7 separate regions of the Homo sapiens genome follow, and regions 2, 3, 4, 5, 6 and 7 are each linked to region 1. Evidence: fine-mapped expression QTL. A gene starts in region 1. Each other region holds a variant in brackets. All regions are shown on one strand. Distances are between the middles of the regions.

The links. PIP is the estimated chance that this variant, and not a neighbour inherited with it, causes the effect.
Region 2: its variant is fine-mapped to the expression of EML4 in sun-exposed skin (GTEx, PIP above 0.99).
Region 3: its variant is fine-mapped to the expression of EML4 in whole blood (INTERVAL, PIP 0.98).
Region 4: its variant is fine-mapped to the expression of EML4 in subcutaneous fat (GTEx, PIP 0.99).
Region 5: its variant is fine-mapped to the expression of EML4 in whole blood (TOPMed, PIP above 0.99). The same link has a PIP of 0.9 or more in blood mononuclear cells.
Region 6: its variant is fine-mapped to the expression of EML4 in whole blood (INTERVAL, PIP 0.97).
Region 7: its variant is fine-mapped to the expression of EML4 in testis (GTEx, PIP 0.91).

What each region holds. Positions count from the first base shown.
Region 1 is chr2:42,167,705-42,171,784 of GRCh38, forward strand. EML4 (EMAP like 4) reads left to right here and starts at 1,649. Exons shown (of 23, transcript NM_019063.5): 1 at 1,649-1,932. The coding sequence starts at 1,908. It overlaps EML4-AS1 (EML4 antisense RNA 1), which reads right to left and starts at 2,527. Exons shown (of 4, transcript NR_110584.1): 1 at 2,266-2,527. RefSeq lists enhancers at 1,231-1,370, 1,383-2,035 and silencers at 1,451-1,500, 1,601-1,660.
Region 2 is chr2:42,270,248-42,274,327 of GRCh38, forward strand. All of the region lies in intron 6 of EML4 (EMAP like 4), which reads left to right. Among named protein-coding and RNA genes, the nearest start is that of COX7A2L, 89 kb to the right of the region's middle. The variant G/C (reference allele first, on the strand shown) is at 1,618.
Region 3 is chr2:42,346,730-42,350,729 of GRCh38, forward strand. It overlaps COX7A2L (cytochrome c oxidase subunit 7A2 like), which reads right to left. Exons shown (of 3, transcript NM_004718.4): 3 at 2,609-4,000. Among named protein-coding and RNA genes, the nearest start is that of COX7A2L, 12 kb to the right of the region's middle. The variant A/G (reference allele first, on the strand shown) is at 1,951.
Region 4 is chr2:42,227,004-42,231,083 of GRCh38, forward strand. The region is part of intron 1 of EML4 (EMAP like 4); the gene reads left to right. Among named protein-coding and RNA genes, the nearest start is that of EML4-AS1, 59 kb to the left of the region's middle. The variant T/C (reference allele first, on the strand shown) is at 1,967.
Region 5 is chr2:42,281,564-42,285,643 of GRCh38, forward strand. It overlaps EML4 (EMAP like 4), which reads left to right. Exons shown (of 23, transcript NM_019063.5): 8 at 1,260-1,409; 9 at 3,071-3,140. Among named protein-coding and RNA genes, the nearest start is that of COX7A2L, 78 kb to the right of the region's middle. The variant T/C (reference allele first, on the strand shown) is at 2,125.
Region 6 is chr2:42,264,876-42,268,955 of GRCh38, forward strand. All of the region lies in intron 6 of EML4 (EMAP like 4), which reads left to right. Among named protein-coding and RNA genes, the nearest start is that of COX7A2L, 94 kb to the right of the region's middle. The variant A/G (reference allele first, on the strand shown) is at 2,004.
Region 7 is chr2:42,323,837-42,327,916 of GRCh38, forward strand. EML4 (EMAP like 4) reads left to right here. Exons shown (of 23, transcript NM_019063.5): 20 at 1,631-1,718; 21 at 2,318-2,416. Among named protein-coding and RNA genes, the nearest start is that of COX7A2L, 35 kb to the right of the region's middle. The variant G/A (reference allele first, on the strand shown) is at 2,035.

The sequences.
Region 1 (4,080 bases):
TGCAGTCATGTGACCAAGTTCTGGCCAGTGGAATGTGGACAAAAGGGAGGTACACACTTCCAGGTCTGGACCATAAAACATATGTATACCAATATGCCAAGTTCTTATTCTTTTAATCGACCTAAGGCAGAGAGTGTGGCCTGAAGACACAAAGGAACAGCTGTCAGAATTGAGAACTTCTCAAACATTTACTTAGGCTTAATAGAAACTTATGCATATGAAAATGCCCATAGCAGAAGGAACATTGGGTAAATCATTTAAGTTTGAAGAGAAGGAAATTTTAGACACCGTTTAGTCTGTAACCTGAATTTATCTTGGCTGCGTTATGGCCAGTCTCCATATAGTATGGTATTCAGAAACAGGTCTTATATCCAAATAAGAAATGCAAAGTAATTTACATTTTTAGGGAAGATTTTTAAAGAGGCAACAAAGGGAGACGTATACCCCAAGAAGGTTTAACAATCCTTTCAATCATTTAATTCCTCTAAGTCTCTCTCATCATTACATATTTCTTGTCTCCCTTCTTGTTTGTCCCTCTCTCCTGCAACTCTGTGTAGTAGGACTCTGTTTTCCCCTAACTCAGCTTTTTATTATGTATTTATCAATTTATTATGTATAGATCAATTCAGTTCTTCAGTACCTTACAGCTCTTCTCTCTCTTACTCTAATCTGCACAACTGAGCCCCAGGAGGGACTTGACAAACCATGAGAAAGTCTTTAGAAGTATGGGAAATCGTGTTGGGGAAGGGAGGAAGAATATGAACGCTATGTATATTTACATGTTTTGGTTACATGTCCAGACAACCAATTTGCAAATGAATAAAGTGACGCCTAAATAAATTAGGTGATTTGACACTCTTGAGTCATACGGAGTTGGGCCTAGAACTCAGTGTTACTTCATTTGAAATAACCCTTATTATGGTTCCCTAGCAGGCCATCCTATAGCCTGCCATATATGGTCGTTTTGCACCCCTAGACGACAGAACGCTAGGGAGAGTAAGGAAGGCTGAGTTTTTGCTTCTACTAGGTTCGATGACCTTGGGCAGGTTGTCCTCTCTAAGGCTCTGTGTTTTTCTTCATAAGAAGGGTTAGACAAGATGAACTTTTGGGTCATGTCCAGCACTAAAATTCCTTGCTTCTGATCTGTCCCGGGCCCTGCGGCTGTGGCAGTGGTGGTATCGAGCTAGTCAAGAAGCTTCGCCCCTATTTGTCCCCCACCCTATTGGGGGAGAGGGAGAACCTCTCCCTCTTGGTTGCTTCTTTAGTGTCCTTGTAGGACCCACGTGGTGGTCATCTCCCGTCACGGGGGTCCAGTCTTGGCTCTGCGGGCTTCCCAGGGGCCACATAGGGAGAGGATCCTTCATGCATCAGAGTATCGCAGGCCAGAGTCTATGCCTTATCCCCACCTGTTTGGAACCAGCTTCCAAACCGTGGTCCCCAGCCTTCAGCAGGCCTACCGCGCAGGCGCAACCACCAGCCTGGCGCGAGGCGGACAAACGCCGAGGCCGAGGCAAGGTGAGAGGGCGGGGCTGGCAAGACCCCGCCTCCGTGGCGTCACGTGGGAGGCGGAGTCGGAAGTGTGACGGCGTGCGCGGGGCGGGGCTACTGCTGCGCGCGGGCGCGGGGGCGGGGCGGGGCGCGGCGCGGCGCGGCGCTCGCGGCTGCTGCCTGGGAGGGAGGCCGGGCAGGCGGCTGAGCGGCGCGGCTCTCAACGTGACGGGGAAGTGGTTCGGGCGGCCGCGGCTTACTACCCCAGGGCGAACGGACGGACGACGGAGGCGGGAGCCGGTAGCCGAGCCGGGCGACCTAGAGAACGAGCGGGTCAGGCTCAGCGTCGGCCACTCTGTCGGTCCGCTGAATGAAGTGCCCGCCCCTCTAAGCCCGGAGCCCGGCGCTTTCCCCGCAAGATGGACGGTTTCGCCGGCAGTCTCGGTGAGTACGGCTGGGGAGTCCTGCGTCTTCTGCGAAGGGTAGGAACTTTTTTCCTTCCGCACACAGCCCAGGCCCTGCCCTCCCGCCTGCCCCTCGGGGTGGCAGCGGCTCCACTGCACATGTTCCCTTCGAGGCTGCCGCCCCTCCGCGGACTCCGGTGGACTGAGGGCCCCTCCCCCATGTCCAACTCTCCTCTGTGTCAGACCCTCCTTTCCTCCCGGAGCCCCTTTCAGTGCGGGGCCCTCGTTCCCCCAAAGTGGGAACCCCTTCCTTCTCAGGCCCCCCGATAGCTGGCACACCCCTCCCCGTACACTCACGGCTCCCTCCACTTACCCCCCTTCAGAGTTGGGACATTTCTTCAAATCCAGGCTCCTCTTCAGGGTACAACCTTCCACCACCTTTCCACATACACGCCTCTCTTTCAGGGTGGGGATCGCCTTCACCCGAACAGAGGCTCCTTTTTAGGGGAGGGACCCTCATTCCCTCTTCAGGAAGGGGGCATCCCCCGCCCCCAAGTCTTCACTTTAGATTTGAAGGCGACTTTCCAGTATCCTTCAGAGTAGTAGGCAACTTCCTTTTCAATCCCTCCACTTCTCTGAGCATTTTGCAGTGGTGGAGAGACCTAGAAGCATCGGAGCATCATTTGCTTAATGCAGGAAAGGAAGAGGTGCATCTGTGTTGGGGGACCCTCTTTAAGAGTGAAAGCAGAAGTGTTTTCTGGTTCTGCATACATGCTGGGGAGAAGTGATTCTGCCCAATGAATCAATAGGAAAGGGGGCCTCTATCAGGGAAGGAAAGGATTCTCCATTTTTGGAAGATGTTGTCTTTGTGGAATGGAGAAAGGGAAGAGGTTATTAAATAGGCTGAAGTGCCTTTTCAGTGTTCCTTTCACCAGATGAAGGTAATCTTCTGGCTAGGAAAATCAAAACTCCAGGCTAGTATTCGCTGCCCTAGAAGCTGAATCTGGAATTACTATTCTTCGAGGCCATTGAAATCTAGTAAAAGATTAAGTTCAACTGTTAGAATGGTGAGAGAAACAGTTTCAGCTTTGGCTGATAACGCAGTTGTGTGATACCTACTGCTGGAACTGTATTTTGAGTTTTTTATGTGCAGGTAGCTTGTATTCAGACGCCTTTCTTTTACATTTCTTGATAATAAGTCTCTACTTGGTTAATGTTCACTGATCAGTGAGCAGTCTGGCCATAGGCCGTACTATATCCAGATAATATCGAGATGAGATGGATTTTTAAAATCTAAAGTAAAAAAGTAAGTCAAAGAGCAATGGGCCTATTATAGATATTAAATAGTAAAACCTATAATTTTGGCCTTCCCTTTTTCTTGGGCAGAAAAAATTGTCGTTATATTGCTTTCAGAGTGGAAATCCTAAAATAGGAGGCAACTGAGTGTTGTGTTACTCTTTCCTCCTCAAAGGCACCTGTTGTCCATTATCTAACCTTTGATGTCTTGTAATTCCTTACTTAGGTTGGGCTCTTTTTAGAGAGACATCCATTTTTCCCTGGTTCTTTTTTAGCTCCATGCGTTGGTTTATTCACAGTAAGTGTTGGACCGAAAAACTTGTCCTATATGTCCGCTGAAGGGCTGATCTTATACTAAAGTAAAAATTGAGTGTCTTCTTAGGGGATGTTGTGGAGAGCTGTGCTATCTTTATACTGTATTGGGTCCTCATCCTGTAGGAGTGGTGAGATCACTTTAACTTCTTTCGTGTTGGCTCTAAAGATTTCTGGAGGGCTTGTTAAAGCTTCATCTTCTGTAAGTGTTTAGGAGGAGTCTTTCTCACCAGTTGGGGCACTTAATGTTTATTTTCAAACATTGATTATGCTTTGTAATAGCTTTCTTCTTTCTTAACCAGTTTATGAGGCAAGTGATACAAAAGACCGAGAGATGAAGATGAATTGCAGTTGGGGCTCACACTTTTCATAAAGAGCGTCATTGTTGACCCTAATGTTGGATTTAAAAAATTCATTTGATGCCATGCTTTGGGTGGTATGTGATGAGACTTTCCTTTAGATATGGTGTTAATCAGGAGCAGAGGAGATATGCCTATCAGAGGAACCTGCATCTGCAGAGAGGGAAGGAAATGGTTCCTGGCAGTATTTCTGGAGCTGTTCTTGATGAAGATACTTCTCA
Region 2 (4,080 bases), 100 kb after region 1:
CTTGTGAACTACCTTTTGAAGAACTTAAAGGCTAGGTGGGGTGGCTCATGCCCATAATCCCAGCATTTTGGGAAGCCAAGGTGGGTGGATTGCTTGAGCTCAGGAGTTCAAGATCAGCCTGGGCAACATGGCAAAACCCCATCTCTACCAAAAATACAAAAAATTAACGAGGCGTGGTGGCACACGTGTAGTCCCAGCTACTTGGGAGGCTGAGGTGGGAGGATGGCTTGAATGCAGGTGCTTTTGTTCAGAGCCTTGCATTATGTTTTCTGACCTTTTGGCTCCAGGCACATTTAGTCCTAAAATCTGTTCACACCTGTGCAAACTGAGCATTGTATCTGAAAGAATAGCTAAAATTTATCGATAAAGATATATAATAGCGGTGTCCTGCTGACTCTGTATATTGTGTCACCTATTGAGAGGGTGTATATTGTCATTTACTGAGAGAGTGTGCAGTTTGAAACAAATGAAAAAAGTCAAAAGCCTTTAATCGAACTACAGACAGATTCTTTCCTTTTTACCAAGGTGGTATCCCAAACTTGGCAATTCCCGAATTTAGGAAGAAGTTTGTTGAGTGTGGATAAACAGAAAGGACGGAAGACCAATGCATTTCCAGTGGAGACACATACTTAATTCTAAAACCTATGTATTTTCTTTTTTATTTTTGAGATAGGGTCTCACTGTGTTGCCCAGGCTGGAATGCTGTAGAATGATCACAGCTCACTGCAGCCTTGACCTCCCGGGCTCAGTTGATCCTCCCATCTCAGCCCCCAGAGTAGCTGGCACATAGGAATGTGCCACTGTGCCCAGCTAGTTTTATATTTTTAGTAGAGACAAGGTTTCGCCATGTTGCCCAGGCTGTTCTTGAACTCCTGGGCTCAAGTGATCCGTCTGCTTCAGCCTTCCAGAATGCTGGGATTATGGGCATGAGCCACTGTGCCTGGCTAGTTCTAAAATTTACATACTGTCCCTTTTAATAACCTGTATAACCATAACTTGGATCCCTACATCTGGGCTTTGTCCAAGTATTCTCTGTATTTTTATTTATTTTATTTAAGAGGGTAGAGAAGGCACTGCCAAGGACAGCAGGCCCGCCAGGCCGCTGGTCTCGCCATCTGTATTTTAAAAGGAGACCCAAAAAAGGGGACCTTTCCTCTGTTGGAGATTTTTTTTTAAGCCCTATAAAGCAAAGATCTGATTTCATAATGTTGTGGTTAGTAGCAGTCTTCCAGATTAAAATATGTTTGAAGGCTGTCCAATTTTTTAAAATAGAAACTATCCCAACTTCTAAGAACATGTTCTTGACATCCTCTTTCCTTATTTTCAGCGAAGAAAAAAGCCCCAACTGCCTTCTCTGGACATCAAGTATATGACTTCATTAGAGAACGTTCTAATCTTATACGTATTTATTGTGGTTAAAGTCTTTTCATTCAAATTACGCGTATTTTTGCTATACACATACTTTTTAAAAAAATCTAAACTAGAAAATGTAATTAACCAGAAATTTTTCAGTCTTCAAGTCTGCCAGTTAACTGAGTGAAATATTTTCATAGTTAGAAATCTGTGCTGTCCAGGCCGGGCACAGTGGCTCATGTCTGTAATCCCAGCACTTTGGGA[G/C]GCCAAGGTGGGCAGATCACCTGAGGTCAGGAGTTTGAGACCAGCCTGGCCAACATGGCAAAACCCCATCTCTACAAAAATACAAAAATTTGCCAGGCATGATGGCACCTGTCTGTTGTCCCCACCTACTTGGGAAGCTGAGGCAGGAGAATCGCTTGAACCCGGGAGGCGGAGTTTGCAGTGAGCTGAGATCGCACCACTGCACTCCATCTCAAAAAAAAAAAAAAAAAAACCCTGTCCAAAAATGGCAGTTATATTCTATACTGTATTTCTTACTCTAGTAATTGTTATTGTTTTCTAGAAGCACTTTGAAAAGAATGCTAAAATTTGTGATTAGCTGTAGCCAGGAAGAGTTGCGGTTGATCAGTGGCATATACCAAGATTTCAAGGAAAAAGCATAGTAAATCCTGTGCCACGTCCCTGAACTACACTCACAATTCTCCAAAGAACAGTTTCACCAAAAATATTCTATTGTTTTCCTTTAATAATGCTTTTTAAACTTTGGTGAACTATTTTAATGTTTCTAAAAATATATTCAAATAATATAGTGAGCACCTGTATACTGACCACCCAGATTTATCAGATCTTTACATTTTGCTTTATTTGATTCAGGGGTTTTTTTCATTTGTTTTGGTCTCAAACTCCTGACCTCGGGTGATCTGCCCACCTTGGCCTCCCAAAGTGCTGGGATTACAGACATGAGCCACTGTGCCCGGCCTGGACAGCACAGATTTCTAACTATGAAAATATTTCACTCAGTTAACTGGCAGACTTGAAGACTGAAAAATTTCTGGTTAATTACATTTTCTAGTTTAGATTTTTTTTAAAAAGTATGTGTATAGCAAAAATACACGTAATTTGAATGAAAAGACTTTAACCACAATAAATACGTATAAGATTAGAACGTTCTCTAATGAAGTCATATACTTGATGTCCAGAGAAGGCAGCTGGGGCTTTTTTCTTCGCTGAAAATAAGGAAAGAGGATGTCAAGAACATGTTCTTAGAAGTTGGGATAGTTTCTATTTTAAAAAATTGGACAGCCTTCAAACATATTTTAAGAAATAACATTATAGTTGAAACTTCTCATTAATCCTGTTTAATCAGAATTTTTATATACAGGTTTTTAATGTTCTGCTGAGGCCTCCTGATTGCCTCCCTGCTATAGTTAATTGAGAAAGCAGAGCCAGGGTGTTAAATATTTTGACATTTGAAGTTTCCTTTTCAAATTTCTTATTTTTAAAAAGTTAAGTGCAACTTGGTATATTCATATAAAATGAAAAGCTTTTTCATTTATTTAGTGCTTTAAATAATTTTTCCTGAGGATATAAGTGAATGAGTTGGGAGAATTTTAAAAATAAAACCATATTTTGCCTACAGAAAAGTTTTAAGCAGTATAGTTAGTCTTTTAGCAGTTTTATGTGTCTCATATTGTTGAAATAGATTTCTTTTCCATCTTTTCCCAATAAAGTCATTTCAAGCAGTAAAAATAATCTAAAATGCTTAAGCAAACTCATGTCTGATATTTTCAAGTAATTTTATGACAGAATTGTAAACAAAACATCAAGAGAAATCTGATTAAAGGAGTTTAGGTTCAAGAAGGTGGGTAACTGTAAGTTGGCTTGCTAGTGTAATTAGTATAAGAGTTGATTAACAGGTGCACAAGACATGGTTATGTCTCCAATCTAAGCTCTTAAGAGGTTAGGTTCATATCTTTTACACTGTGCATCCCCCACCCCACTATGTAATTAAAAATTCAGGAAATTTTATCAGCCAATAGAAGAAAAAAATTAAAGTAGCATTTTGTACTTAGTCAGATTTTTTCAGACCCAAGTTTTATGCTAGCTAATAAAACTACTAATCTTTAGCAAGTACTGGAACTAAAAATTTTTTAAATCTGTGAAATAAGAAAGTTAGATTATACCCTTCTAAATTCCCTTTTAGTTTATTTGGTTATCTACATTTTATGATTTAACTATTTTTACAGCTAGATCATTGAAAGGGGGCAAAATCCAAACATGCTTACAGATTCCATTGTTTCATTGGAATTTTAAAATACTGAATTATAACCAGAAAATAACTGGATCATTAACTGGAACTTGAAGTCTTTTGTTTGGATAAAGAACCTTTTTAAGAAAAGATTTTAGCCTTCCAAAAATGGTCCTTGTCACTTTCTACTATAAAATTACAGTAAATATTTCTAGCATTTTGGTTGTCCTTTTGTTTAACTCTGTGGTTTTGGGAAGTAGAGACTGATAGTATCAGAAAAAAGGCTCAAATTAAGTAAAGATTCTTTAAGTTTCTGTTTGCAGAAATTAAGTAGCATCATACTCTCCTACCTTTCAGTTAAATATAAAACTCAAATTCCAGTTTGGGGGAGGCTTTTTAGTTCTAAAGATTGTAAAATACAGATTAAAAAATGGATTCCTAAAATGGAAACTTTCAGGAGAAAGATGCTTTAAGTT
Region 3 (4,000 bases), 180 kb after region 1:
AGTCTGGGCGACGGAGTGAGACCCTGTCTCAAAAAAAAAAAGGAAATTAGCTTTTTATTATAATTAGTGATGTTGAATATCTTTTTTAAAAAAATGTTTTATTCTTTTTAAAGTTAAATTATATTTCCTTTTTTTATGAGCTATCTATTCATGTACTTTGCCCATTTATCTCCAGAGTACTTTTTTTTAAAAATTCTTTAGAGATTGGCTTTTGCTCTGTCGCCCAGGCTGAAATGCAGTGGCGCAATCTCAGCTCACTGCAGCCTTGACCTCCTGGGCTCAAGCGATTCTCCTGCCTCAGCCCTTTTTGTATTTTTGTAGAGACAAGGTTTCACCATGTTGCCCAGGCTGGTCTTGAACTCCTAAGCTGAAGTGATCTGCCACCTCAGCCTCCCAACATGCTGGGATTATAGGCGTGAGCCATGGCGCCCGGCCTAGTAAGGCAATTTAAACCACAAAGAAATGTTATCACTTAGAGGACTGGCAAAGATCAAAAAGTTTGGTAATATTTTATGTAGACAAAGGTAAAAAGAAACAGGCACTCTCAACACTGCTAGATAGGAATGTAAACCAGCACCTTTTTTTTTTTTTTTTTTTTAGTAATTAGCACTATTGAAATTGGAAATGCACATCCCCCTCACCTCCTAAATCTCACGTCTAGAAATGATCCTAGAAATATATCCAACATTGTATTAAATGACAGCTAAAGATTATGCATTAAAGTCATATTTATAAAAGCAAAAAATTTGAAACTGAATACCCTTCAAAAAGAGACTAAACTATGGTACATTCATAAAATAAAATCCAATATAGAAAAATGAGACAGAACAATCTCTAAGCTACAAGTGAGATTTGGAAGGTATACTAACTACCATTTAGGCAAAAATAAAACAGGCAAAGAAAATGCGTTGGCCGGGCGTGGTGGCTCACACCTGTAATCCCAACACTTTGGGAGGCCAAGGCACGTGGATCACCTGAGGTCAGGAGTTCAAGACCAGCCTGACCAACCCGGAGAAACCCCGTCTCTACTAAAAATACAAAATTAGCCAGGTATGGTGGCGCATGCCAGTAATTCCAGCTACTCGGGAGGCTGAGGCAGGAGAACTGCTTGAACCCAGAAAGCAGAGGCTGCGGTGAGCCGAGATGGCGCCATTGCACTCCAGCCTGGGCAACAAGAGCGAAACTCCATCTCAAAAAAAAAGAAAATGCATCTATATATGTTCATAGAATATATCATAATAAACAGAGGAAACTGAGGTAAGGAAAACACAAGGTCAGCATGGAAGCCATCTTGTCTGTCACAAGGTAGGGAGGTGATCAAAGACTGATAGGAGATGCTCAAAGAACACAGAAGCCACATTTCAGCATCAAAATCAATAATGGCAGAAATGCTTACTATACATCAAATCAGGAAATTCCATCAAATTTCTTTAAAGGCTCATCTTCACAGAAGAAATATCAAAAATGTAGAAGGAATGACAACAGAAAAAATCAGTTTACAACTACCTTAGTAATAATTCAGTCAAGAATGACCAATGAACAGAGTGCAAACTGCTGAGGACACGATATTCCTAGTCTCAAATATCGCCCCTCAGGCTACTTATTAACTGCAAAGGGGAAAGGGTATCAACTTGACAAGGGAGAAATCCGGCAGACACAACTTCAAATCACCAATAATGGGACAAACTGGTATCAAGTGCCACCTGACATAACGAGGACACCATATCACCTATAAAAAATTCCTGACAAAAATGTTTAACCTGAAACCACCAATGAGACAATCAGACAAATCCAAGTTAAGGAATGTCCTACAAAACAACTTGCCTGGACTCTTCAAATAGGTCACTATCAGGAAGGGCACTGGGGACTGACTATTCTGGATAAAAAGAGACTAAACAGTCACAACATGCTGGGCACGGTGACTCACGCCTGTAATCCCAGCACTTTAGG[A/G]GGCTGAGGCGGGCAGATCATGAGGTCAGAAAATCGAGACCATCTTGGCCTACATGGTGAAACCCCATCTCTACTAAAATTACAAACAATTAGCTGGGCATGGTGGTGTGCACCTGTAGTCCTAGTTACTCGGGAGGCTGACTCAAAAGAATTGCTTGAACGTGAGAGGCGGAGATTGCAGTGAGCCAAGATCACGTCACTGCTCTCCAGCCTGGAGACAGAGCAAGACTCCATCTCAAAAGAAAAAAAAAAGTGACAACAACTAAATGCAATGTATGATCCTTTGCTGGATCCTGGACCCAAAACAAAAACAAAAAGGAACTGCATGTGCTGGTGAGAATGTTAAATGGTACAACTGAGTTGGAAACAGTCTGGCAGTTCCTCAAAATGTTAAACAGAGTTACCATATGACCCAGGAATTCCACTCCTAGGTAGATACCCAAGAGAAATGAAAACATATGTCCATGTAAACATATGTTCACTATTGCTCATAGCAGCATTATTCGTAACAGCCCCAAAGTGGAAAGAACCCAAATGTCCAACCATAGATAAACAAAATGTGGTATACCCATTCGATTGAATACTATTCAGATAATAGAGTATCGATTCATGCCACAACATGGATGAGCCTTAAAAACATGACACTGAGAGAAGCCAGTCACGTACATCACACATCATATGATTATATTTATATGAAATGTCCAGGAAAGACAAATCCATAGAGACTGAAAGTAGATGAGTGCTTGCTTTGGGCTAGGAGGTGGGAGTTGGGATGGTGGGAGGGAAGGCAAGTGATTGCTAATGGGTATGGGGTTTCTTTTTAGGGTGATATAAGTGTTCTAAAATTGATTCTCATGGTGGCTGTACAACTCCAAATACAGTAAAAACCAATGAATTGTACACTTGAGGTGAACTGTACAGTATGTAAATTATATCCCAATAAAGCTGTTATTTTTTAAAAACACAACTATGAAGAACTCATTATTAGAACACCTGGGGAAATCTGAAAGTAAACTATGTATTAGATGGTAGTATTGTTATAAATGTTAACTTTATTGAGTCTGACAACTGCATTATGGTTATAAAGGAACACATGTCCTTACTCAGAAGATACCTGCTAAAGTACTATGGCTGATTTATCATAATTCCCTAACAATCTTAAATGACTCAACAAAAAACAGATCTATGTGTGTGTGCATATATGCATTGTGTGTGCCTGTGTGAGAGAACAAGAAAAAGCAAAGGTGCCAATATATTGATAACTGGTGATCTAAGTGAAGGATATACAGGTGTATATTGTACTATGCTTAGTCCTTCTGTAGTCTGAAAATTTTCAAAATAAAAACTTGGAGGAAATACCAGAGAATAAAATTTAGATTTGCAGAGAGAGAGAGAGAGAGATATCACTGCAAGGCTACTATTGAGTATTTTCAAATCACCACATCTTATCCTGAGCAAGAGGTCACTGTTCTGTGCTATGGTAAGATACAAACTATTCCTTCATATATAATAAAATTCCACCTTTTTTCAAAATTAATATAGGGTAAGTGAAGTCTACCAATCATGACAGCAAAGGAAATTAGTGTCTAAATGAACTGTGAGTTACAGGTACCTTTCACTAAGGGGCAGGCAGGTTTTTATAAAAAACCATGTGGTAATCATCAATATGCCATTAAGACTCCTATTACTAGACTTTTAAGAACCATTTTATAAAGATTATCTGGTGCCTAATTAACAAGAAAGAAATTAGACTCAGGTTTAAGATGCTGCTGGTGTTCTGAAATTACTCTGAAAGGTCATTCAAAGAACTTCAAACTTAAAATTTTTCATTCATGTATTTATTCCACAGTCAAAATAAATCAAAATTTAAAGCTATAACATTTTTAAAAGATAAAGGAGAATTTGTGGCACAGCTGCATTAACAAAACAGACACCAGTCTAAAGTGCAACACTAAACAGGTATTCTCTGTTCCCACGGTGGAATAATTACACATAAGATTTCACTAAAGATAGGAGATGAGGCAAATAACCCTTTGAAATTACCTGCCCA
Region 4 (4,080 bases), 59 kb after region 1:
CTCTCAAAAGGAAAGCAAGATTTTGTTGAGCCTTGTACTGAACTTGTTTAATCCAGACTTTTTTCCACTTTCAGTTTTATGTGCATGTGAAATGATGTTCATTCTTTTTCTTTTTTTTTCCCCTTGAGGTAAGATCTCGCTCTGTTGCCCAGCTGGAGTGCAGTGGCACAGTTGTGGCTCACTGCAGCCTTGACCTCCCAGATTCAAGAGATCCTTCCACCTCAGCCCCCACAGCCTGCCCCAAGTAGCTGGCTGAGACTACTGGCATACACCTGGTTTTTTTTAATTTTTAATTTTGTAGAGATGGGGTTCTCACTATGTTGCTCATGCTGGCCTCAAGCAATGCTCCCACCTCAGCCCCGCAAAGTGCTGGGATTACTGGCATGAACCACTGTGCCCAGCCTCCATTCTTATTTTTTTAAAGAATTACATCCTACCTGCTTTCAAAATTAATATGAGCCTGTTAAGGCTTTTTTTTTTTTTTTTTTAAACCACCCCTCTTCCACAAAGAAAAACTTTAAATTTGCTTCTGGTCCAGCAACTCAATTTTGTGTGACATATTGCAATATATATGCCCTTCAAATACAGTTGACCCTTGAACAACACAGGTTTGAACTGTGTGGGTCCACTTATATAAGGATTTTCTGCTGCCTCTGCCACCCCTAAGGCAGCAAGAACAACCCCGCCCCCTTCCTCCTCCTCTGCCTATGCAGCATGAAAACAGCAAAGCTGAAGACTTTTATGAACATCCATTTCCACTTAATGAATAGTGAATATATTTTCTCATGATTTTTTTAACATATCACCTTATAAAACTATAGAATATATATAACATACAAAATATGTGTTAATCAACTGTTTGTTATCAGTAAGGCTTCCGGTCAACCGCAGGCTATTAATAGTTAAGTTTGTAGGGAGTCAAAAATTATACATAGGCCGGGCACAGTGGCTCACACCTGTAATCCCAACACTTTGGGAGGCCAAGGTGGGCGGATTACTTGAGGTCAGGAGTACAGAAGCAGCCTGGCCAACATGGTGAAACCCCATCTCTACAAAAAATACAAAAAATTAGCTGGACATGGTGTCACGCACCTATAATCCCAGCTACTCAGGAGGCTGAGGTATGAGAATTGCTTGAGCCTGGGAGGCCAAGGTTGCAGTGAGCCAAGATTATGCCACTGCACTCCAGCCTGGGTGACAGGGAGAGACTCTGTCTCAAAAAAAAAAAAAGTATACATGGATTTATATACTTGAAAATTGCTAAGAGAGTAGAAAGAATTCTCCTCATAGAAAAATGAGTGGGTGGTCAGCACCCCTAACCCCTACATTGCTCAAGGATCGACATAGTTTTAGGAATGAAGTTGATGAGTTTTGCTGATATAGCTTGTGGTTGATTGATAGATTTCCTCTGGGTCTTTCTCTGCCTTCTTTTTTATTTGAAATAGGCTAAAACATCATGTTCTTAGAGCTTGTCATTTAAAATTTAGTATTCAATACTTATATCATTTGGAATATAGCTGTAGTCTTATAATTCAGAAGGTATAGCTTTGCTTGTAATGTTTTATAGGCCTACATAGTGAGCTCTTAAAATGGCACTGCTTTAAAAAATTTCTCATGAGTATTTTGCTTTTAACAGAGAAATAACTTGCTCCAGAGACCAGGCTTTCATTCTTTTCTCTCCTGGTAAAAATTGACTGACTTTCTGTGAGTTCTACAATTTTCTGTATATATCTGTCAGGACAAGTGTTGTATTGTACTTTATTTTATTTATTTATTTACCTTCTTCTCTCCCCCACAATGCTTGCTAGGGTTAGGAAACAGTCTTATTTAAATCCTAACAATGCATGGTATGTATTAATAATTAGAAGGTCACTTAATGTTAAAAATGATTATCAAATAAATAACATATATCTTTGTGTTGTTTTCACTGTCTCCTGCTAATTCCAATTTAGTCCATTTTTAATTT[T/C]CTGATGATTAAATGAAATTTAGTGAGTAAACAAATCAGTAAAATATAGTATCTCTTTCTGCTAATGTATTAGAAACTAAGTTTTAGTAAAACTTTGATCGTGTACCCTAGGTACCTGACTGCAAATGTTACTCATCCTTAAGGATTAAGGTGATCTAGGTGTGGGTTTAGCAGACCTTTGTATTGGAATCTTATGATGATTATAGTAGTAGCTAACATTTATAAAAAGGAAAATTTCACTATTTGTTGTTTTTACATGCTGTTTAATTTATCTAATTTAATTTTCTATAACTTTATATGTCATCTAGATGTTCTTAGCTTCATTTTAAAGATGGAGAATCTGAGGCATGAAGAAGTTAAGAAACTTGCCTGGGTATATAGTTACTAAATGATGAAGCCAGTTTTTAAATCCCAGACAGTCTAAATCCAGCACTGTGCTCTTAAGCACCATATGCATATTAAGTAAGTTTTTAGCTTACACATGAACTTTGTATTCCAGGAACAGTTATGTTAGTAAAATATTAAATGGTAGAGAATTTTTTCATAAAGCAAGACAGATAACTGTCTTGCAAGAGTCACCCATTCACCACGAGAGAGAAAAATAAAAGAAATGTGAGTGAGTGAGTTTAGGGCTAAATACATGTAAATACTGAGTTTGTCAGAGGAATCAGGGAGGGAAGTAAAGTAGATTTTTTTTCTTGGGTAAGAAATAAAAGCATTTAGCTCATTTGCTTATAAAAAATAGTAAGAGGAAAACTCTAGCAAAATAAATCTAGAGTCTTGGTTGAGGCCCACTAATGCGAGAACATCTGACCTCTTGGTTGGGCTAAATCTCTAAAACTGATAGGAATAACAAAAATATACTTAATTTTGGTCATATCCTGGCAGAGGGGAAAGGAGGGCAGGAAGATAGATAGCCTCAAAATCCAGGTACAAGAAAGGAAAGGGGATATTCAGAGAAAGAAAAAAACCATAAAAAGGAAGAAATACTAGATGGTGAGGGAAGAGGAGAGAGATACCGATCTTTTCTATCATGCAATTATTGGCTAAATTTGCTTCTTCCAGATTCCCCCTCAGCTACACGAAACTTCTAATAAAGGGGGTTCTTATCTTCTAAAGCAACCCCTAGTCCTATGCATGTCACCAAACTAATAAGTGTCTTTTTTTCATTCCCTGTTTTATCCTGTCTTTGCTGCTTATTCTGAAGCACAACCACAACAAATCAACCACTGTTTGGAGAGTTATTGCAAAGTGTGATGCTTTGCAGGTGTAGAGGAAAATGAAAAATAGCTTCTTCCCCAGAGGGTTTTACAATCTAGTTAGGAATTTTAAATGTAACTTTATTAAAAGATAATTAACAATATCCTACAATATTATGAGTTGTGTGGTATATACAATTCCACACTTACCTATTAGCTCAACCTCTTATTTTTTATTTTATTTATTTATTTTTTTGAGACAGAGTCTTTTACTGTTGCACAGGCTAGAGTACAGTGTTGCAATCTTGGCTCACTGTAACCTCCGCCTCCCAGGTTCAAGTGATTCTCCTGCCTCAGCCTCCCTAGTAGCTGGGACTACAGGTGTGTGCCACCATCCCCAGCTAATTTTTTATTTTTAGTAGAGATGGGGTTTTGTCATGTTGGCCAGGCTGGTCTCAAACTCCTGACCTCAGGCGATCCCTCCACCTCAGCCTCCGAAAGTGCTGGGATTACAGGCGTGAGCCACCGTGCCCAGCCAGCTCAAGCTCTTTAACCAGGTCTTCTCAGCAGGGCACTGTGTCTCCTGCTTTACAGAAAAATTAGGTAGAAAGACAAATATCTTCACCTCCTCTCATCTTCTTCCCTTCATTCTTAGATAAAAGTATCTCTTCTCAGAAAAGGCTCATTCTTTGTCTTGTTTTTTCTATTTTAGCCCTTCACATCTCTAACGCTGGAGCTCTGCTCCATGTCCTTACGTGTTAGTATAAATAACTCTGTTGGTTCCTTCCCTCAACCCTGTAAATCTATTACTCTTACATTTAAATAAAAACACCACTGTCAGCTTTGCAGACACTCTCTTCACCCCCGTCTGGTTAAACCCTTTCCATCTTCAATCACATTCCTTAAAAGACTGCC
Region 5 (4,080 bases), 110 kb after region 1:
TGGCCCTGCCACTTACTCTCCGTGAACCTTAACTTTCTTTACTTATAAAAGGGGTTAATTAATAACCCATACCTCACAGGGGCTGTTGTAGGAATTAAATAAGAAAACATCAGTTAAGCATTTTGTAACCTCAAATTAACAAGGCTGATTCTAATTCAGAATTAACTTTTCAGCCAGACTTTTTTTTAAATGACTGTTAAAGGAGAGCTTTCCTAATTTCACCTAGAAATTTTCACTTCTTTTAGAACCTCCAAGAAACTCAGTGAAACAGAAGGAGTTGGTAGTTTGAACTCTGTTGTCTGCCTCCATTCTCCTGCACTTCCTCCCACGTCCCTTGAATTATTCCCTTCTTAGGCAGATATCAGCTTGGACACACTCACCAATCCTTTCATTCTGTACAACATATTTTTAACAAACATTCTGCCTACCAAACTGTTCCTTGCTATTACTTATTTATCATTTAGGTCCAGCATAAATATCCCTTTTCCAGATAGGCCTTCTTTTGGTCCCTCCCTTCTCTCTCTTTTTCTCTCCATCTAAATTAGGTCCTCCATTTGGGCTTTCTCCTAGCAGTCTTTTTTTTACCCCCCCACGATTTGTAATTTTATATTTGGTGATTTTTTTTTTTCTTTGCCAGAGGATAAGCTCTAGAGACATAGGGCCTACATTTTTTTTGTTCAGAACTGAATGTTCACCATTATGCCTGATACACATTAGGATTTCAATACATATTTGTCTGGTAAATGAGGAAACTAAGATCTTAACATACTGAAAGAGTCAGGTTACGCTAGGGATAATGGCAGGATATGAGTTTTCCTTTTTTTTGGTGGAGGGGTGGGGGTGGGCGGCAACAGGGTCTCTGTGGCCCAGGCTGGAGTGCAGTGGCACGATCACTGCTCACTGTAGCCTTGACCTGACCTCCTGGGCTCAAGTGATTCTCCCACCTCAGACTCCCAAGTAGCTGGAACTACAGGCACAGGCCACCATGCCTGGCTAATTTTTTTTATTTTCTGTCGAGATGGGGTCTCACTATTGCCCGCACTACTCTCAAACTCCTGGACTGAAGTGATCCTCCCACCTTGGCCTCCTGAAGGGCTAGGATTACACGTGTGAGCACTCTGCCCGTCCAGGACATGAGTTTTCTAGTTCTAGTTCAGTCTTCTTCATTGTACCTTCCTAATTCCTTAAGTATCCATGAAAAATCTGTTAACAACTTGAAAACTGTGTTTATTTAAAACCTTGACTCTTTTTCTGTTAAGATATGGTTATCGAGGAAAGGACTGTAGAGCTAATGTTTACCTTCTTCCGACCGGGAAAATAGTTTATTTCATTGCATCAGTAGTAGTACTATTTAATTATGAGGAGAGAACTCAGCGACACTACCTGGGCCATACAGACTGTGTGAAATGGTTGGTATCATTTAACATTGGTTCATTTTTGTTCTTTCAGGCCCTCATTTTGTATTTTTTAAATTTGGGTTTTATTGAAAGTGATTTCTTGTGGAAAGCTCAGAATGTAAAAATATTATGGGTCATCTGTTGAATATATTTTAAAAAGAAAAAAAGGACTTTCGGCCTCCAAAATGGTGGTGTGGTATCAGCAGCAACAAAACACATCCTCCATAAATCATGATTGGAACCTCTTCTGCTTTCTCATGTCGTACAGTCCTTCTCTTCTCTGGTCTGTAGTGTGAAACATATATGGGACAGACTGGACATTTTCAGGTTTCTGAAAGTGATTATTGGTTACTCGATATTTATTGAGGATTTGTCCTATGTAGATAAATTTTATACTTGAAGCTTTATTCTTTTGGGAAGAAAGAAATCTAGCTGAATAAGGATCATAAGTATGCCGTAGGATGTCATACTACAAATGTGAGAACTCCTTTTAAATGCTTTTAAATTATTTTGTTACTTTTTAGTTAAATGCAATTATTTATTGTTTATTAATATTTTCCAACTTTTATTTTTTATTTATTACCCTTTTCCCCACTTAGATCCAAGGACTGACTGGATGTTTTCCAACATTTAAAAGCTTTTATGTCTGTACTATGCTGGCACCTGTATCTTTATCCAGAAAAAAATTAATAGATGACTATTATAATATTATATAGATATTGAACTT[T/C]TGGAGTTGATTAAAATATTGCCTTTTACACTTGCAGAATAATGTATGTACAAAACTATTTACTGCAGCATTGTTTGTGATGAAGATTAGAAACAGCCTAAGTATTTTTCAGTTGGGGACTACTGGTGAGGTTGTAGTGTACCTATAGGTCACCATGTAGCTGTAAAGAATGAGGAAGCACTTTATGTATTAATATGTAAATATCCCTCTGATGTGTTCTTAAGTACAAATATTTAAGAGCAAGAGAATGTTCACAGTGTACAACCGTTGTTGAAAGAGTCTAGATATGGACATAAAGATGTCTTTTTCAGAAATTTGCTAGTCACTCATATACGTGCTGTGAGTAATTTAGGCACATATGCTACGCTACTTCCCATTTCTATTTAAAAATTCCTTGCCTCAGTTTGACTTACAAGAATTTAGCGCTAAGAACTAATTAAAAGATTGAAAGCACTATGTGTGAAGATGCTCATTGCTGTTTTCTTTTGTTGAAAAGTAAGAAATGGCCTAAAAGATGGAAGAGTTGTCAAGTCAGCATGTATGAGGATTATGTAGCAAAAGGAAAAAATGCTTGTACTTTAATAGATTAAAATTAAACAGCACAATATTGCATCTTCACTATAATAAAGTCGTGTGATTTGTATGCCATTGTGCGTGGACTAGAAAGGAACTTCAGCAAATGAAAACAGTTCGTTAGCATGCCACAGTTATAAATATTTTCTTTGAACTTAGTGTTTCATTAATCTGTGCAGCTTAACAAGTAAAAAGTACAGCTGAAAATTCAGAAATCTTCAGATATTTGATGATTGTTTGATTTGCTGAAGAAAACAGATAAACGTATGTTTTTTAACGATTAAAAACTGCTTATTTGAAAAATGTCAGTACAAAGGTATTCTGTTGTTTCATGTTTCCTGTGTTTAAAATCATTCTTAATACTGCTTTTTAGCCTTGCTATACATCCTGACAAAATTAGGATTGCAACTGGACAGATAGCTGGCGTGGATAAAGATGGAAGGGTGAGTGGCATAGTGTTATGCCTTCTGTACCTAGAGACATTGCTGTTAGAGTGGAATCTATTGTAATTTTAACCACAACTCATTTGTTTTATTCTTTTAAAATTTAAGTACTGAGGAATTTCTAGTATAAGCATGGAAAAAACATTAGGATATAAGAACACTTTAAAAGACAGAGTCATACTAATAAATTTTGTTTTTAAAAAATAAGTGTTCTCCCTTAAGAAGCTATTTACTGTAAAAATGGGAAAACTGATACGCTCGTTACATTTTCTTTATATAAAATAACATATAAAGTAACCAGTGTCTGCGGGAAGGTACTGCAGTTTCCCTTAGTTGATGAACCTGTTGATTCTTATTTACTTTCTTAATTAATTAATTAATTAATTATAGGGGTGGAATCTCACTTCGTTGCCCAGGCTGGGCTCAAACTCCTGGGCTCAAGTGATCCTCCAGCCTTGGCCTCTTGAGTGAGTAGCTGGACTACAGGTGTGTGCCACCATGCCCGGCTAACTCTTGATTTTATGTGTGACTAGAACTGATACAACTTAAAGAGTTACAGTTACTATTTAATATTATTCAGTTGGTTTGTATAACAAATACCTTATTTCTAAGGATCAACAGTGACTATTAATGGTGACTGAGTAACGTATGTATGACTATACTCATGACATTCTCAGGCTTCAGTTTCTTTAAAGAAAAGGAGTAGAAGGTTTCTACTGGATAACTTCTAAGACCCCTTCCAGTTTCAAATGCTATTTAAGGGCTGTTTAGCAGTTTATTGGACATTGATAAAATGTGTTATTTTCTCAGGAATGAAGATTAGTAATACTAAAAGCAAAAGTATCCGGAGCAGATTTGCCTGGATTAGAATCCTGACTCCACCTTTTTTTTTTCTTTTTTTCTTTTTTTTTTTGAGACGGAGTCTTGCTCTGTCTCCCAG
Region 6 (4,080 bases), 97 kb after region 1:
CCCAGTTTTTATTGTAAGGTAATGTCATTTTTGTCTCAACCAGCAAAAATGTCAACTCGCGAAAAAAACAGCCAAGGTAAGAATAAGCTACGCAGTTGGTTGCCTTCTAAGTGAATTTTTTCCTGGATCTCTTATTTGGCTTTTTATTATTTATGCTGCCTGACTTTCTTCCTTAAAAAGGAAATACAGTGATTTGAGCTAGATGAATCCAGCTACATTTTACTTTTTTTTTTGAGACCGAGTCTCATTCTGTTGCCCAGGGTGGAATGCAGTGGTGCAATCTCGGCTTACTGCAATCTCCACCTCCTGGGGTCAAGTGATTCTTGTGCCTCCCAGGTAGCTGGGGACTATAGGCACCACCACACCCGGCTAATTTTTGGTGTTTTTTGTTTGTTTGTTTTGTATTTTTAGTAGAGACGGGGTTTCACCATGTTGGCCGGGCTGGCTGCAAACTCCTGACCTCAGGTGATCAGCCCGCCTCAGCCTCCCAAAGTGCAGGGATTACACGCATGAGCCATGGCACCCGGCCAATTTTTGTATTTTTAGTAAAGATGGAGTTTCACCGTGTTGGCCAGGCTGGTCTCAAACTCCTGACCTCAAGCAGTCCTCCCGCCTCAGCCCCCCAAAATGCTGGGATTATAGGCATGAGCCACCACACTTGGCCCGGCTGCATTTTTAAAAATCCATCTTATTTCTAAGAAATCTGAAGATTCAAGGTGAACAGTAAAAATACAGTATTACAAAAAGGGATAAAATACTAGAGGGAGTTTTCTCCCTTAAAAAAAAGTTTTACCTAGAAATAAACGATTGATAAATTTTAACTCAGTTTCCTGTCTTGCCAACTTCATTGCAAATAATCACTCATTTCTTGATGCTAAGACTGAAAATATGATGAGTCTAGCAAATCCATTTCCTCTTAAGTTTTTCTTTTATATTGATTGTAACTTCTGGCTACTTGCTGTTGTTGGCTTGTTCAGACCAAAAAAAGAGAGCAGACTTTTGGCGAATGCGTATTTAATTTAATTGCACTGTAGGTAAGTTTTATACATCAGTTTTACATTCTCTTTAGATTGCCTGCAAATTTAATTGAAGCATGCTGTTCTTAATGAAAGCACGTCCTTTCTGTGCATGGTTTTCACAGCTCATTTCTATGTTTCATAGTTAGCCTTATTTTCTGTTCTATTATAGTAACCAGCTGCAACGTGGTTAAAGCTTTTTTTAGAGATTTAACTTGATTTCTGTGGATTTTTACTTCTTTCGTTCCAAAAAGAAAAGAAAGAAATATTTGTAATAGTCTTTAGGTCATTTGTTTTTACATAGACATTCTAAATGAAGTTGAATTTTGCTGGCATTCTTCTTTAGTAGGTCTTACTTTCTCCCTTCTTTATAATACAACATAGATTAAGTAATGTTTGAGATACTTTAAAGGGAAAAATGAAATTTTATTTATGAAGATAATTCTTAATACATTATATATCAAAACTTTTAAGAGAGAGGGTCTTGCTCTGTTGCCCCGGCTGGAGTGCAGTCACTGCCTTGGCTCACTGCAGCCTTGGCCTCCTGGGCTCAAGCAGTCCTCTCACTGAAGCCTCCCAAGTAGCTGGGACTACAGGCGCGCACCACATACCTGGCTGATTTTTGTATTTATCATAGAGATGGGGTCTCACTTTGTTGCCTAGGTTGGTCTCAAACTCCTGGGCTCAAGCAGTCCTCCTGCCTCAGCCTCCCAAAGTGTTGGGATTACAGGCGTGAGCCACCACTTCTGGTCCGAAAACTTTTTTTTTTTTTTTTAAATAGAGTCGGCGGTATGTGATAGGAAGAGCAGTGAATGGGGAATAACTGTGTTTAGTGGTTGGTCCTGGCTCTTATGCATAATAGCCTTATGACCTAGGCTGAATGACAATGTCTCTGAGTGGTTTTCTACTCTAAATATAGTAACTATAAAGCTTATTTCACATGACTACTGAAGGATGAAATAATATATATGAAATATAAATTGAAAT[A/G]TAGTGGCATCTACTGAAATAGGGAACATTTGAGGAGAAGGAGATGTGTGGAAAAGGAGTTTGGCTTTGGACAATTGCATTTGAGTTGTCTATAAAACTTAACCTACATGTAGAGATGTATAGCAAACAATGTCATGTAGATGTTTAAACACATGGATTTTGGAGTCCAGAGAGTGGTTTTACCATTGACTTAGCTATAGTGACATTGAGCAGGTTACTTCAACCTCCCTAAGTCTTTGTTTTCTCATCTGTAACTGAGATAATAATAAGCCATTAAAGGGTTACTGTAAAAATTATAGTAATAAAGTGTACCCAGTACCTGACATATAATACCAGGTAAGTTTTAGTTATTAATATATGAATTTGGCAGTAAAACCTTGCACTCAGATTTGTATTATCAGATGAAAAGATAATTATTAAATAGGTGAGAGTCATTGACTGTAAGTTGTATAGCTATTTTAGAAGTGTGGTATTCATTTTGCATGGCATATTCACAACACATTTTCTAGTATTTCAGCTATTAATGCTAATATTTGTCATTTTTTGACATTCTTTTTAAAATATGACATTAATTTAGCCTCTTTTTGACAATGATAGCTGTGGCTTGTTCCAAATCATCTGCTTTGATTTGAGAAGAAGCCTATTTACATATGGTACATTTAGGTGAGTGGTAACAGAGAATACTTTACCTGAAAGGCCTGTGTCCTTCAGACAGAGCAGAGTAGGAGAAAAGCTAGAAAGCTGCATATTCCAGTCACCACTTAGGCAGAAGTCAGGAAACTGGTTGTTGAAAGCAATAGAAAGTGAAATGAGATGTACGCAGGGCAATCTCTGAGGTTAGGTGTGAGAGGAAGGGCAGGTTATGCCACTAAAAAGAGGCTCTTACTGACCTATATGTTTATACCCTGAAACCTAAACTTTTTTTCATTACTCTCTCCCCTAGTTCTGCTGGGTTGTGCTCCAGATACAGCAGAGATAAAGTCCTAGCATGTCAACTTAAAATTTGAATAAGTTCCATGTAGGACTATCTATTGTTAGAGGTAGCAGTTAGGTTGTAGTACAATAATATTCACTTTGGTGAGTTACTGATTTTAAAAAATTTTCCAAGCTAAGTTGGGGGACTTCAGGCACCATGTATAAAATTGCTTATTGTGGAAAATAGATAACAATTTGACAAATTTTCTAATAAACAAAATGATACTGCCATTAAGGTCATCCTTGAAATAGTTATCAAGTACAACTGGCCTTCCATATCTGCGGATTTCACATTCCTGGATTCAACCGACCTGCATTCGAAATATTAAAGGAAAACAAAGTTCCATCTGTGGTGAACATGTATAAACTTTTTTTTGTCATAATTCCCTAAACAATACAATATAACAACTAATAAGTAATCTAAAGATGATTTAAAGTATACAGGAAGATAGTCATAGATTACATGGAAATACTATACCTTTTATATCAAGGACTTGAGCATCCACAGATTTTGCTCTCTGCAGGAGATCCTAGAACCAGTGTCCCATGGAAACCAAGGGACCAACTATTTATTTCATTTCAAATTTATTATTTATTTATTTAGAGACAGGGTCTCACTCTGCCACCGAGGCTGGAGTTCAGTGCACGATCATAACTCACTGCAGCCTTGAACTCCGAGCTTGAGTGACCCTCCTGCCTCAGCCTTCCAAGTAGCTGAGACTACAGGCACATACCACAACACCCAGCTAATTTTTGTATTACTTTATAGAGGCAGGGTGTCACTGTGTTTCCCAGGCGTGTCTCAAACTTTTAGCCTCAAGCAGTCCTCCCATCTCTACCTCCCAAAGCGTTAGGATTATAGCTGTGAGCCGCCGCACCTGGCCTACATTTTTTAGAGATGGAAAATAAGTGTCACATGATCTCATTATTTCTGGAGGAGAATCTGAATGTCCTCAAAATGTTTTTTTCAGACTTGAATAATCTTAAATTTAATTTTTCTCTTGTAGAACTTCAAACTAGGCCTGTTTAGATTTAACACATAATTACCTGGTCATGTTGAGAAACTGAATGACTCAGATCTCTACTGGAAAGAAATCTGCTT
Region 7 (4,080 bases), 160 kb after region 1:
GGGAGGCTGAGGTGGGAGGATCACTTGAACCCAGGAGGCGGAGGTTGCAGTGAGCCAAGATTATGCCACTGCACTCCAGCCTGGGTGAACGAGTGAGACTCTGTCTCAATTAAAAAAAAAAGAAAAGAAAAAGAAAAAGTCTTAGAGGAAGAAAAGAATAGGTGAAAAAAAATAAAGGCCAGGTGCAGTGGCTCACACCTGTAATCCCAGCACTTTGGGAGGCTGAGGTGGGCATATCACTTGAGGCCAGGAGTTCGAGACCAGCCTGGCCAACACAGGGAAACCCCGTCTGTACTAAAAATAGAAAAAATTAGCTGGGATGGTGGTGCACACCTGTATTCCCAGCTACTCAGGAGGCTGAGGCATGAGAATCATTTGAACCTGAGAGGTGGAGATTGCAGTGAGCTGAGATTGTGCCACTGCACTCCAGACTGGGCAACAGAGACTCTGTCTCAAAATAAAAAGAATAAAATCATGTGACCAGAAAGCTAGTAATTGACCGGATACAGTGGCTCATGCCAGTAGTCCCAGCACTTTGGGAGGCTGAGGCTGGAGGATCGCTTGAGCCTGGGAGTTCAAGACCAGCCTCGGCGATGTGGTGAAACCTTGTCTCTGCAGAAAATACAAAAATTAGCTGGGAGTGATGGCATGTGCCTGTAGTCCCAGCTATCCAGGAGGCTGAGAAGTGGAAGGATCACCTGAGCCCAGTGGGGTCAAGGCTGCAGTGAGCCATGATAGCACCATTGTACTCCAGCCTTGGCAACAGAGTGAGACCCTGTCTCAAAAAAAAAGTTAGTAATTGAAAAAGCACAGTAGAAATTAAATGTGTTTGACCACAGACTGTAGGAGGTAAAAGCAAATTCAAGTCTCTGTCAGCTTTGGTGAACCATAAGATCTGTGTAATTTATCTGAAATAGTTTATTGGAAATGCTTAAGTGCTTATACGTGAAGCCAACAAAAATTAGTGTTTCGTAGTTTTTTTGTTTTAATTCCCACAGTGTGAAAACCTAAGCAGAAAAAGATCGTTGTTTCCTGCTTAAGGAATGTTTTAAGGAATCATGATTTTATTGAGACCTACTGTTCTGATGGAGTACAGCGTTGGGTGAATTTTCCCCAAAACATTCTTTAGAGATAGTCTTTCTAGGATACCTCCATAGACCATATACGGGTGCTGTATTCCTCAGCTTCTGAGTTGTACCATGGATAATTCAGAAGTAGCCCAGGAAAACTGTATTCCTGATGCCTTATGCACAACTTATAACCAACACTTCATTCTCAAAAATGGAGTCACTCTCATGGGGACACCAGTGACGTGAAATAAGGCCAGAGGGTGTGGTATGTGTTGCAATGTCCTGTAAGATACAAGTTTAAGAGACTGTCTTTCTTGGAAGTGTCTAATACAGGTAGTAGGTGCTAGTTTCTGGTATCTAGATAGGCCAGAAAGTTTCTCCCAGGTTTCAAGTGCTGAGGATTTGCTGTGAGCCTGCTCAGTTTTAGAGGGTGTGACACTGCTTCCTCTCCTTTAGAAATTCCAACAAATGTGTATTCAGAAACAGTATTGGCTAGCTGTTGAACTGTTTATCATTCAGAACTCTAAATGCTTTCTAACAATTTATCTGTTATTTTCTAGGGACATTCCAGCTACATCACACACCTTGACTGGTCCCCAGACAACAAGTATATAATGTCTAACTCGGGAGACTATGAAATATTGTACTGTAAGTATGAATGATTTTATATATATATATATATGCTATGATTATATTTATATATATATATATATATATATATATATATATATATGCTAAGATGTGTCTGTCAGGGGCGCTAATGAACAGGCTGCATGGAATCTGAATTGTGCAGAGAATGCTTGCCAACCTCTTTAACCTGACAAAGCATATGTTATGCTGAGCTAAGGTAATGAGAATCTCAAATGTGATTCACTTCTCCAAGAGTAATGAATTAATGTTAATAGTGTAGAACAGAAGGCACATATAGTAATAAGAAATTACTCTGTCAAATTGATGCTGCTCT[G/A]AATGGTTTTTCATTTAATTACTTCTCCTGGAGGCAGGGAGGAATATGATAGATGGGCATTTATGCTTTTTAGAGGAAAAAAAAAACTTCCATGGGAAACAGTTTGTAGTTTTATAAACCCTGTTAAAGTGAACACTTTCTTTTCCTTTTTAAATGTGTCTTAATGTTTTTCAGTGTATGGATTATAAATACAAGTAAACGTGGCTAGTTTGAATCAAGATGCACTTTCAAATACATTTGTACACAAGCACTATGATTATACTTCCTGTTTCTAAATTTAAAGGGGACATTCCAAATGGCTGCAAACTAATCAGGAATCGATCGGATTGTAAGGACATTGATTGGACGACATATACCTGTGTGCTAGGATTTCAAGTATTTGGTAAGGAAATGACACCTGATGTAAAGAAGTGGTTTGTGGGTTTTTTATATATAATATTTACTTGCTTAAATTTATAAATGAAAAATAGTCTGTGTATTCTTTAGCTTTATCACTATTAATGTCAGCCTCAGAGAAATTAAATGTATTAGGATTGAACCAACATGGGATTTGTATTTTGCAGAATCAAGCACTTTTGGTCCTTAATATGAAAGACAAGGAATTTACATAGTAGTACAGATTACCTTCCCGTTTTTCTTTAAGTGAAAATTGAAGTTATTAAATTTGGAAAGGCATTTTTAAATAGCTTGAGATACATGCCATACAATTCACCTAAAGTGTAAAATTCAGGCTGGGCGCAGTGGCTCACACCTGTAATTCTAGCACTTTGGGAGGCCGAGGTGGGCAAATCACCTGAGTTCAGGAGTTCGAGACCAGCCTGGCCAACATGGTGAAACCCTGTCTCTGCTAAAAATACAAAAATTAGCTGGGCGTGGTGACGTGCACCTGTAATCCCAGTTACGTGGGAGGCTGAGGCAGGAGAACTGCTTGAACCTGGGAGGCAGAGGCTGCAGTGAGCTGAGATTGTGCCACTGCACTCCAGCCTGGGTGACAGAGTGAGACTCCAGCTCATAAATAAATAAAGTGTAAAATTCAGTGGTTTTTGTATACTTAGTTGTGTGACCATCAAGGTCTAATTTTAGAACATTTTCATTACCCCACAAAGAAACTCTGTACCCATTAACAGTTACCCCATCTCTCTTATCCTCTACCCCACCCCCCAGCAACCACTAATCTGTTATTGATTTGCCTTTTCTGTATAGTTTATATAAGGGGAATCATACAATATTTGATCCACTGAGACTAGCTTCTGTGATTTAGCATAACGTTTTCAAGGTTTATCCACGTTGTAGCATACATCAGTACTTTACTCTTTTTATGGCTGAGTAATATCCCATTGTATGGATAGATGACATTTTGTTAATTCATTCATCAGCTGATGGACACTTGGGCTGTTTCTACTTTTCAGCTATTATGAATACCACTGCTGTGAACAGTCATGTGCAGGTTTTTGTGTAGACATGTTTTCATTTCTCTTGGGTATTTACCTAGGAGTAGAATTGCTGAGTCAAATGGTAACTGTATGTTTACTCTTTTGAGCAACTGCCAGACTGTTTTCCACAGTGACTACATTTACATTTCCACCAGCAGTGTACGAGGGTTCTGGTTCCTCCATGTCCTTGTCAGTGTATTTTATTATTATTTTGCGTGTGGATGTCTAGTTGCCTTACACCACTTGTTGAAATACAAAGGCATTTTTAGGAGAATTATATAAAGATAACTATGTGGGGCTTCTTCCTAATCTGACGTTTTGTAACTTTCTGGAAATCCGACCTCTATGACTGTTTTCTAAGCCTTCCTCAGTATTTAGGTATCCTTCTGAAAGGGTTAGAAGATAGATGGAAAAGTTAAAATAATAAAGCGTTATTTGCAAAGAATTAAAAAGAAGTGTTATGCTCAGGTAATTAAAATACTGGATATGGATGTGGCACCAATACCTAAAGCAATACACAAAAATTAATATTTTCTCTTTAACAATTTATCTCTGCCTTCTGAAAATTGGGTTCTCCAGCCTGATCATAGATCTGAACATTTCTTTATGCTAT